Regions from separate parts of the Homo sapiens genome. Here region 1 is linked to region 2. Evidence: fine-mapped expression QTL. Tissue or cell type: blood mononuclear cells. Region 2 holds a variant in brackets; the other region holds the start of a gene. All regions are shown on one strand. Distances are from middle to middle. Region 1 holds the start of NAP1L3 (nucleosome assembly protein 1 like 3). Region 2 has its middle 110 kb from the start of FAM133A.

Region 1 (4,407 bases), 110 kb before region 2:
TCAGGATGACATTATCATGTAAAATCTGCCCAATTTCAAAGTCCTCATCCAGGATAGCATCTTCTCGTGGTTCCAGCTTCCCAATCATAGGAATCTCAGGAGGACTAAAGAAGTTGAAGAATGATGCATTAGGAACCACTCTTGGCTGGATTTCAATTTCTCCAGTAGCAGTTGTGCGACTCTGGGTAGTTGTCACAGTAACATCTTTTCCTCTTCTCCAGTCTATCTTGCAGCCTTTGCAATCTTCAATTTCCCATCCCCAAGAAAAGAAGGGATCATTGTGATCTGGTTTTGCCTTTATTATATATGTCTTCACCAGCACCTCATTTCTGAAGTATGGGTTGGGTAGAAAATGAAATTCAAAGGTGTAACTTACAGGCTGGCCAGGTTTTGAGAACTTCAGGCTAACATCCGACAAGAACTTCAGAATGGGCTCATCATACTTCTGAATCATAGGCCCGAGCTTGTCAACATTCTTTAAAACAATCAGCCAATAGTCAGGAATGCCTTTAGGGTCTTCTCTTTTAGGCTTTCCCTTCCTAGCTCTTTTAAGATCTACACTGTCCTGAAGCCTTTCCTCAGGAACTCTTTTATGAGTCTCTCTTACTGCAGCCCTTGCCTTAGCCTCTGTTGCTTTAGGCTGTTCTTTATCATCTGCCTTTACCTGGGGGACTTCTTTAGGATCTTCTTTTACTTCAGGGGTTGCCTCCATACAGTCTTTAGAATCTGCTTTTTCTTCAGCCTTTACCTCAGGAATTTCTTTAGGAACTTCCTTTTCTTCATCCTTCACCTCAGGAATTTCTTTAGGAACTTCCTTCTCTTCAGCTTTCACCTCTGGGTTTTCTTTAGGGTTTTCTTCTTCCTCACCCTCTAAGGGAGGCATTTCACTAGGGGTGTTATCCTGCACCTCCTCATCACTGCTGAACTCCTCATCCTCTGAATTCCATTCACATTCTTCTTCTGTAGGCTCGTATTCTGCATTGATGATTTGAAACCGCCTATCATACAGAGGCTTGTTGAGTTCAGCATATTTTCTTTCAAGATCATGAATTGCTTTTAAGAACAGGGTATCTACCTTGTCACATTCATCTTGAATGTTTCTAAGCGCTTGCACACGATTTCTAACTGCCTGAGGCAGCCTATCCACGAAATTTGTTCCCAACGGGGCCCGCCGCGCCCTTCTGGAAGGCTCAGGTACCCTCTTCTTTCTATACAAGCGGCTGCGGCTGCTAGTGCTGCCGCTGCTGCTGCTGCTGCTGCCGCTGCCGCTGCTGCTGCCACTAGTGCTGCTGCTGCTGCTGCTGTCACTAGTGCTGCTGCTAGAGCTACTGCTGTCAGATTCTTCCCCAGAATCACTAGTCGAGCTAGCCATCTCCTCTTCGGCAACCCCATGGGCGACAGGTTCCGAGACCATTTTAAAATCTGCTTCTGCCATCTTGCAAGCCTACAAACTCTACCAGGGAGACCGCGCGACCAGAGATGGGCAGAAAATGACTCACGGATGCTTGAGTGGCGGCGGCGGAGGCCCGGGCTGCGGAGGTGGCAGCGGCGATGGCAGCAGCGGCGCAGAGCGGAGCTGGAGCTGGGGATGCAGAGGCCGGCGCTGAGGTGGCAGCGGCAGTGGAGGCTTGGGCGACAGCGGTGGCGGCAAGGCCTCTCCCGGCTGCAGCTAGAGTGCCGAGATGTACCGCAGCCGAATGGCGCAGTATGAGACCCCGAGATCTCTTCTCGTTTTAGATCGCGAGCCCCCTCCCCTTGCAGTCAGACCTCCCGTTAATTTCGTTCCCAGTGTGCCTTTAGTTCGCTCCTCATTTGCTGGTCCACCTTAATTGACAAACTGTACGCCCAACGAACGGCCAAACGCCACTACTCCTGGCTCCGCCCACCTTCCCAGACGCCGCTCGCTGGCTGAGGTGCGACCCCTTGGAAGGTGTCCCCCTGCCCCCCAAAAAGTCTATATTTATAGTTTTATAATTAAAAAAGAAAAAAAAGCGTAGACATGAGGTAAAAATACCAGCCATAGTTCCTAACAAGGGCAAAAGAGGCGTGTCTTCCTTCTCCCATCCGCCCACCCTGAATTCCCGTTTAGTTTGTCACGGGTCTCTTGACAAAAAGCTGTAAAAAAAAAAAAAAAAAAAAAAAAAAATTGAATGAAAATGGTCCAAATGGCGTCATTGGGTAGTGTGACTATGGACGATTTAAAAACAAAACGATTTTCTCTAAATATTCTATGAGCATGCATTTTTACACTGGATAAAAAAGGGGAGAGTCGGTTATTGGCAGAGGAGGGAGGGACTAGACAGCAGGCGTATTGCATTCCACGAAGCTGATTTAATAAGTGCTGTCTGTGATGTTTGGCAAGCCTGGTTTATATCCATCTACAAGGTTTGCGAACCCATGTTGCCGTGAGTCAGTTACACCATTTTTATTATATTTCTCTTTTTAGGCTGGCATATTATATACCCCAACCTTGCTGCTAACTTGCCACGTAGCCCTTCTCAATGCTTGTAACAACCTTGTAGATAAAACAAAGAGGTATTAAATGTTAGGTAGTATTGTTAAAAAGCAAATGATTTGCGTTATACTTTTGTGCAGCAGGTTTCAATTCCAAGAACAGTGGGATGGGAGGGGGAATTTGTGCTAATGAATGTGCATCTTCTGTCAGTGTATGCGATGTCATCTGCCACCAATTTCCTTCTAATGTTGTAAAATTCTAGCCATACTATAGTATGATTTACAAGTCCAGTAATATGTGAATAAACTTTTGCAAAATGAAGTTTAAAAACGAGTATTTGTTATTTTTATTTACAGGATTTTTTTTTCTGCTACAGAACAACTCCCTTGGTACAATAAAAAAGACGAGTATTTACTTTTCATTGAAAGGTAAGGATCATATTTAGCACATTTTAAAGAATGACAAAAATTACTCATCTCCATCTGAATAAAAGTTTACAGGATACAGTCATTTAAAGATTTATTTTAGAGAATTATCTTGATAATTCTATGGAAACAGGAAAATCCACAGAGGTAATTTGGCATACTAATGTAGACAATTACATACTTAACCGCATTAACTATCTAAACCTGGTCATAGAATACAAGTGGTAAATTAAAATATGAAATATGATAAATTATTCATTTCAAATGAGGAAATGTATTAAAGTTAGATTAATCTTTATAGAATTTGTGCTTTGTCATGTAATCACGTTTTTTAAAAGTTAGGAAACGCTTTTCTGTTTCATAAATGCATTTACTTTTATTGTTTATCTCTAATTGTCAAAGTCTGTGAACATTGCAAAGATAAAACAATATAGAAAATTCCAACAGTAGTAAAAACACAAAATCTTAACCACCAAATGATAAGAATTACTAGCATTTTGATGCACTTCCTTCCAGAAATTTCCTTGTGCATATACATACCTGCCTATTTATGTATACTGCTTTATCTATGTGACACCATATTATGTTTTGTAATCTTTTCATTTAATTTATCAATTACTAATGGCTATATTTTCATGGCAAATGATCGACATCTTATTTTTAAGTAAGTGCATATTCCATGGAAATAATTGCCTTAATTTATTTGACCAGATTCCTGTTATAGGGTGGCCATTTCTATACCATCTCTCCCCTTAAATACATACTATTTTCCTGCTATAATCAAAGTGTCCCTGGATACCTAAAGCATGTATTTCTATGCACTTGTGAAAATTGGTCATAAGATAAATTCCTAGAAATGGATGGCTTGGGGATGATCATTTCATATTATGAAATTATTATTGTATACATATTGCCAAACTCTCTGCAGAATTATTATCACAATTTACAGTTCCAACAGTGCATAAAGTTCATTTTTTTGTTATTCAACTAATATATTTTTGTGCTTGTCATATGCCGGGCAAATGTGGTAGAGGATTGTAGTATAATGGTGAATGAAATTTACTAAGTGCATATCCTTTCGTTGAATAATTTTAATCAAAACATATGTTATAGAAACAATGATTTACGTCATTGATGTTATACCATAAATATTGTTCTGAAACTTACTATTTTTATTTTAAATTATGGAGATTTAAAAAAATGTATGCTCTTATGTTTTAAACTTTGTAGCATTAGGAATTAGTATTTTAGAGTCAGTCATGAGTTAGGGATCCAGATTTTTAAAATATTTATTTTTATTAGCTAGCTAATTCTTCTAGTACCATTTATTTGGTAATCTTTCTATCTCCTGCTTACTTGAAATGCTATTTTGATCACATTAAATAAATTGCTTGGGTCTGTCTCTAAATTCTTTTCTGATCCATTGGTCAGACGTTTGCTGCAAACAACTAATGAGTCGGTTTTAAGATAACTTTACATTTTGTGAAGATGATATGTGTTCATTGATAAAGTCAGGCAATACATTGA
Region 2 (4,407 bases):
TGAGTAGCATGCCAAGGTATGAATATACTACAATTTCTTTATCACTTTACCAGTTGAGCTTCATTTATTGGCTATCATAGATAATATGAATATTCATACATAAATAATTCTGTGGCCGTGTTTTCATTCCTCATGGTTAATACCAAGTAGGGGAATTGCTAGGTAGTTTGCTTAACTTCATAAGGTGTTGCCATACTGTTTTTCATTAAGGTTTCACCATTTTCCATTTTCAACAATAGTGAATGAGAGTTACAGTTACTCTACATCTTTGCCAAAACTTGGCATTTTCAGTCTTTTTAAATTTGAAGCATTCTGGTAGGTGTGTTAATGTATCTCATTGGGGTTTTAATGTGCATTTTCTGGTGACTACTGATATTGCACATCCTTCCAAGGGATTATTATTCATTTATATATTTTCTTTTTAGGAGTGTCCATTTAAATATTTTGCCTATTTTTAATTATGTTGTCTGCCTTCTTATCTCTGATGCTGATAACTGCATTAGCATCCCATTGTATAGAATCAGTCTCTATATTAATCTGTTTTCACGCTGCTAATAAAGATATATCCAAGACTGGACAATTTACAAAAGAAACAGATTTAATGGACTTACAGTTTCATATGACTGGGGAGGCCTCACAATCATGGCAGAAGGCAAGGAGGAGCAAAGCACGTCTTACATGCGTGGCAGCAGGCAAAGAGAGAGCCTGTGCAGGGAAACTCCCATTTGTAAAACCATCAGATCTCATGAGGCTCATTCACTATCATGAGAACAGCACAGAAAAGACCCACCCCCATAATTCAATAACCTCCCACCAGGTTCCTCCCACTACACATGGGAATTGTGGGAGTTACAATTCAAAATGAGATTTGTAAGGGGACACAGCCAAACCATATCAGTCTCCTACTGATGGACATTGAAATGGTTTTGAGTATTTTTACTGTTATTAGCAGGATTTAAATTACTGAAGTACCTTTCATTATTTTTGTATTTTGGTATACATTACCAAATTTCTCTTAAAAATGCTTTATTTATTTGCTTGTTTTTCTTTCACAAGGGTCATTCTAACCTTCCAACAATCATGCTTTCCTTTTTTTTTTGCAAAGAATACATCATAAGCATCTTTTCAGTTTAATAGGTATATATCTAGATACGAAATTTTGATGGGTGCTTAGCCATTCATTGTATAGATATGAGATAATTTATTTAACCAATTACCTTTAGATAGATATTTAGATTGTTTCCACTTTTTCACTATTACCAACAGCACCAGAATGAGCATTCTTGTTCATACATATTTTTCCACTTGTTTAATTTTTTAGGATGAATGCCTTTTGATACATATTCTTTATTATGTACATATATATGTACATATTCATTTGACAGACTCTCACTCTGTCACCCAGGCTAGAGTGCAGTGGCACGATCTCGATCTCACTGCAGCCTCAACCTCCCAGGCTCAAGTGATCCTCCCACTTTAACCTCCTGAGTAGTTGGGACTACAGGTGCGTGCCACCATGCTTGGCTATTTTTATTATTATTTTTTGTAGAGACAGGGTCTCACCATGTTGCCCTGGCTGGTCTCAAACTTCTGGGCTCAAGCAATCTGCCAGCCTCGGTCTCCCAAAGTGCTGGGATTACAGGCTTGAGCCACCAAGCCTGGACCCCTTTATTTTATATTAAAATGTTTTATATTTGTTTAATGATTTCCTTGGCTTATAATCATTCATTTACATTACTACAGCCTCTGTAAAAACCTGTCAAAAAGGAAACAATAACATTGTTTTATGGCAGAAAATATTGGAAATATTGATAAATAATAAGCAAAATATTGTCACCCAGGGAAGCGTCATAGTGTTGTACCAGCTTCATTATAGGAGATGCTGAGCAAGACCTTTGGCCTTTATAATATTCTTTCCAGAAAATCATGAAGTTTGGTAGAATTATGACCTCCTTAGACCCTCAAGATTTACTTTTTAATAAAATGTGGGCCATCTTAAATTAGTTTATGCAGAATTCTTTTAAAAGATAAGCAAAAATGATTGGGAAGATTGTTTCCAATAAAATAACAACTGGAATGAAATTAGAGTCAGATAATTTATAAAAGAATTATATTAGGTTCATTTCTCTAATTGTTAAAATGCATTGGATTAATTGAATTTCTGCTGTAACGTTTCTTCTTTATTAGATCAGAATTGACCAGAATTCATAGAAGTAGACAATAATAAGAATACTTTCATTAGCAAAAGACAAAAATATACTTGTAATTATCAAGGACAAGTTAGAATATTTTGTTTTGGTGAA[T/C]ATCTAGTTAAGATAATTTTTAAAAATTACTTTGTGTATAAATAGCATCAAAGCTTAATAAGGAAAGGGCTTTTCAAAAGTCTTTTTAGTTTTAATTAACTTATGCTTGCATTGAAGTCTAGCTACATTGTGGGTTTAGTAGAGTGGAACTATTTTTGAATATCTGCCTGCTAGTTGCATGGTCATATTGACTTTCTGTGGTCCCTTAAGATATCCTCTTTGCTGTCTCTTCGCTGCTCAGGGCCCATTTTAAAGCCTCATCTGTTCAAATTAGAATAACATGTTCCATGACATCTTTTACACAGGCAAAATTTATCTAATCTTCTTTTTCTGGCTTCCTCAGAGATTCCATTAGCATTTTTCACTAATTAGCAGTAGATGGGGTTAAGTTAATCAGATAAATTAATTTCTGCTACAGTCTTAAGGAGTTAGTGAGTTGTCCCACCCAAGAAGATAAGGATTGCCTCAACCAAACTAAAATGTACTAATATAGGTGAAAAGTACTTCTTCAAAGTGTGAAATTTAAGACAAAGAGAAGGTATTTCTAGGACCTCTATTGCTTCTCCCATCATACTACTGTTATTGTTTATAACAGAGCCTGTTTTAAAACTGGATCTGTTCAGTTATTGGGGATCCTTCATTGCTGGTCCTGTCTCTTAGCCCAGTGAATCTATCATAATCTTAGCAGGGAAATTTGTGGTCTGCTATACATAAGGTGAGCAGTTCCAATTTGCTCTTATTATTGCAAAATAATTATTTAATATGTCTATATAGATCTGGAGAATGTATTAAATTTATGATCAGGTGGAATCTTGACTGGGTTTAAATACTGATAGCCAACAAAGACACTCATTTTCTAGAAATGTTTGAATATTGTACAAATACATTCTGGTTCTCCTTTTGGGAAATTACAACACTTTTGTGAAAACCATACTTTACATTTCCATGGGACTTGACAGTATATTGTATTTTCATAAGCATTCTTTAATTTGAAGTTCACAATAGGTCAGTGAGTCAGACAAAACACAAACTCTCATTCCCACATAACAGATAGAAACACTGAATTGATTTGTCCAAGTCTTCCCAGCCATTTATTGGTAAAACTTATGTCCTCTGTCCATTCAGTGTCATTCAACATGTTAAGTGACCAGCAGATGTGAGATTATTACATTCTGATACATAAAGAGTTTCTCAAGGGAGGATGCTTGATTTCATTTCCTCTCCCTTTTCTACATCCAAAGGAAGAAAGTTCTTGGTAAGAATCATGGCAAACCAAGTTTTTACAGTCATATCTATTGGGTAAATTTTTAAAAAATCAACTAGTTATCCTGATTCTTTTGATACCACATATTCAGAGATTTGGGAATATATAAATTATCGATTTACTTTCATCCATTTTAACCTAAAATAGATTCTGCATTTGTCTAAGACCTCTGCACAGTCACTTTGAAGTGGAGATGTTTCAAGGATTAATCTGTGAGGTGTTACTTTAGTCTACAAACATTTGTTGAACAGCTTCTGGTAGCAAGAAAATAAAACAATGTAATGGGGCAGAAAATGATGGGGCTGGGTACAGGATTGGAGGTTATTTTAGGTAGGATGGATTGGGATGGTCTCTTGGAAAAAATGATATTTTACCCGAGCTCTGAGTGATGCAAAGTGAGGACAGTATTACAAGCAGGTGGAAGAGCAAGCACAAAGGCTCTGAGGCAAAGGCCAGTTTGGTGTGTTCATGAAACAGAAGGGCAGTGTGACTGGAGCATAAAGGGCAAGGAAAGAATGGTGTGATATAGAGTCAGAGAAGGGAGGTAGTGGACAGATTACGTAGGGACATATTTGGGTCTTATTTCAAGTGCAATAGAAAGTCACTGCATGATTTTAAAGGAGTGTTTTGGGAGGGAAAATATTATTTGGAAATTATTTGCCCTTATCACCCTTTTGTCTTAAATGAAAAGAAACTTCCTAATTCTTGTGGAGTTAGAGTTAGGGTTTAGGATGTAGAATGTGGTGCCACCATAAACTTGGCCTACTTGACCCTAGGTACCTACTTCTCTACCAACACCGATATTGGTGATCCTAGCTTAATTTTCCCTGCATATAGGGC

Evidence for each region. PIP is the estimated chance that this variant, and not a neighbour inherited with it, causes the effect.
Region 1: it holds the start of NAP1L3, and the variant in region 2 is the best candidate, but not a certain one, in a credible set for the expression of NAP1L3 in blood mononuclear cells (TOPMed, PIP 0.78).

What each region holds. Positions count from the first base shown.
Region 1 is chrX:93,671,870-93,676,276 of GRCh38, forward strand. It overlaps NAP1L3 (nucleosome assembly protein 1 like 3), which reads right to left and starts at 1,709. Exons shown (of 1, transcript NM_004538.6): 1 at 1-1,709. The coding sequence starts at 1,435. FAM133A (family with sequence similarity 133 member A) reads left to right here and starts at 2,337. Exons shown (of 4, transcript NM_001171109.2): 1 at 2,337-2,405; 2 at 2,812-2,883.
Region 2 is chrX:93,778,372-93,782,778 of GRCh38, forward strand. No RefSeq gene overlaps it. Among named protein-coding and RNA genes, the nearest start is that of FAM133A, 110 kb to the left of the region's middle. The variant T/C (reference allele first, on the strand shown) is at 2,304.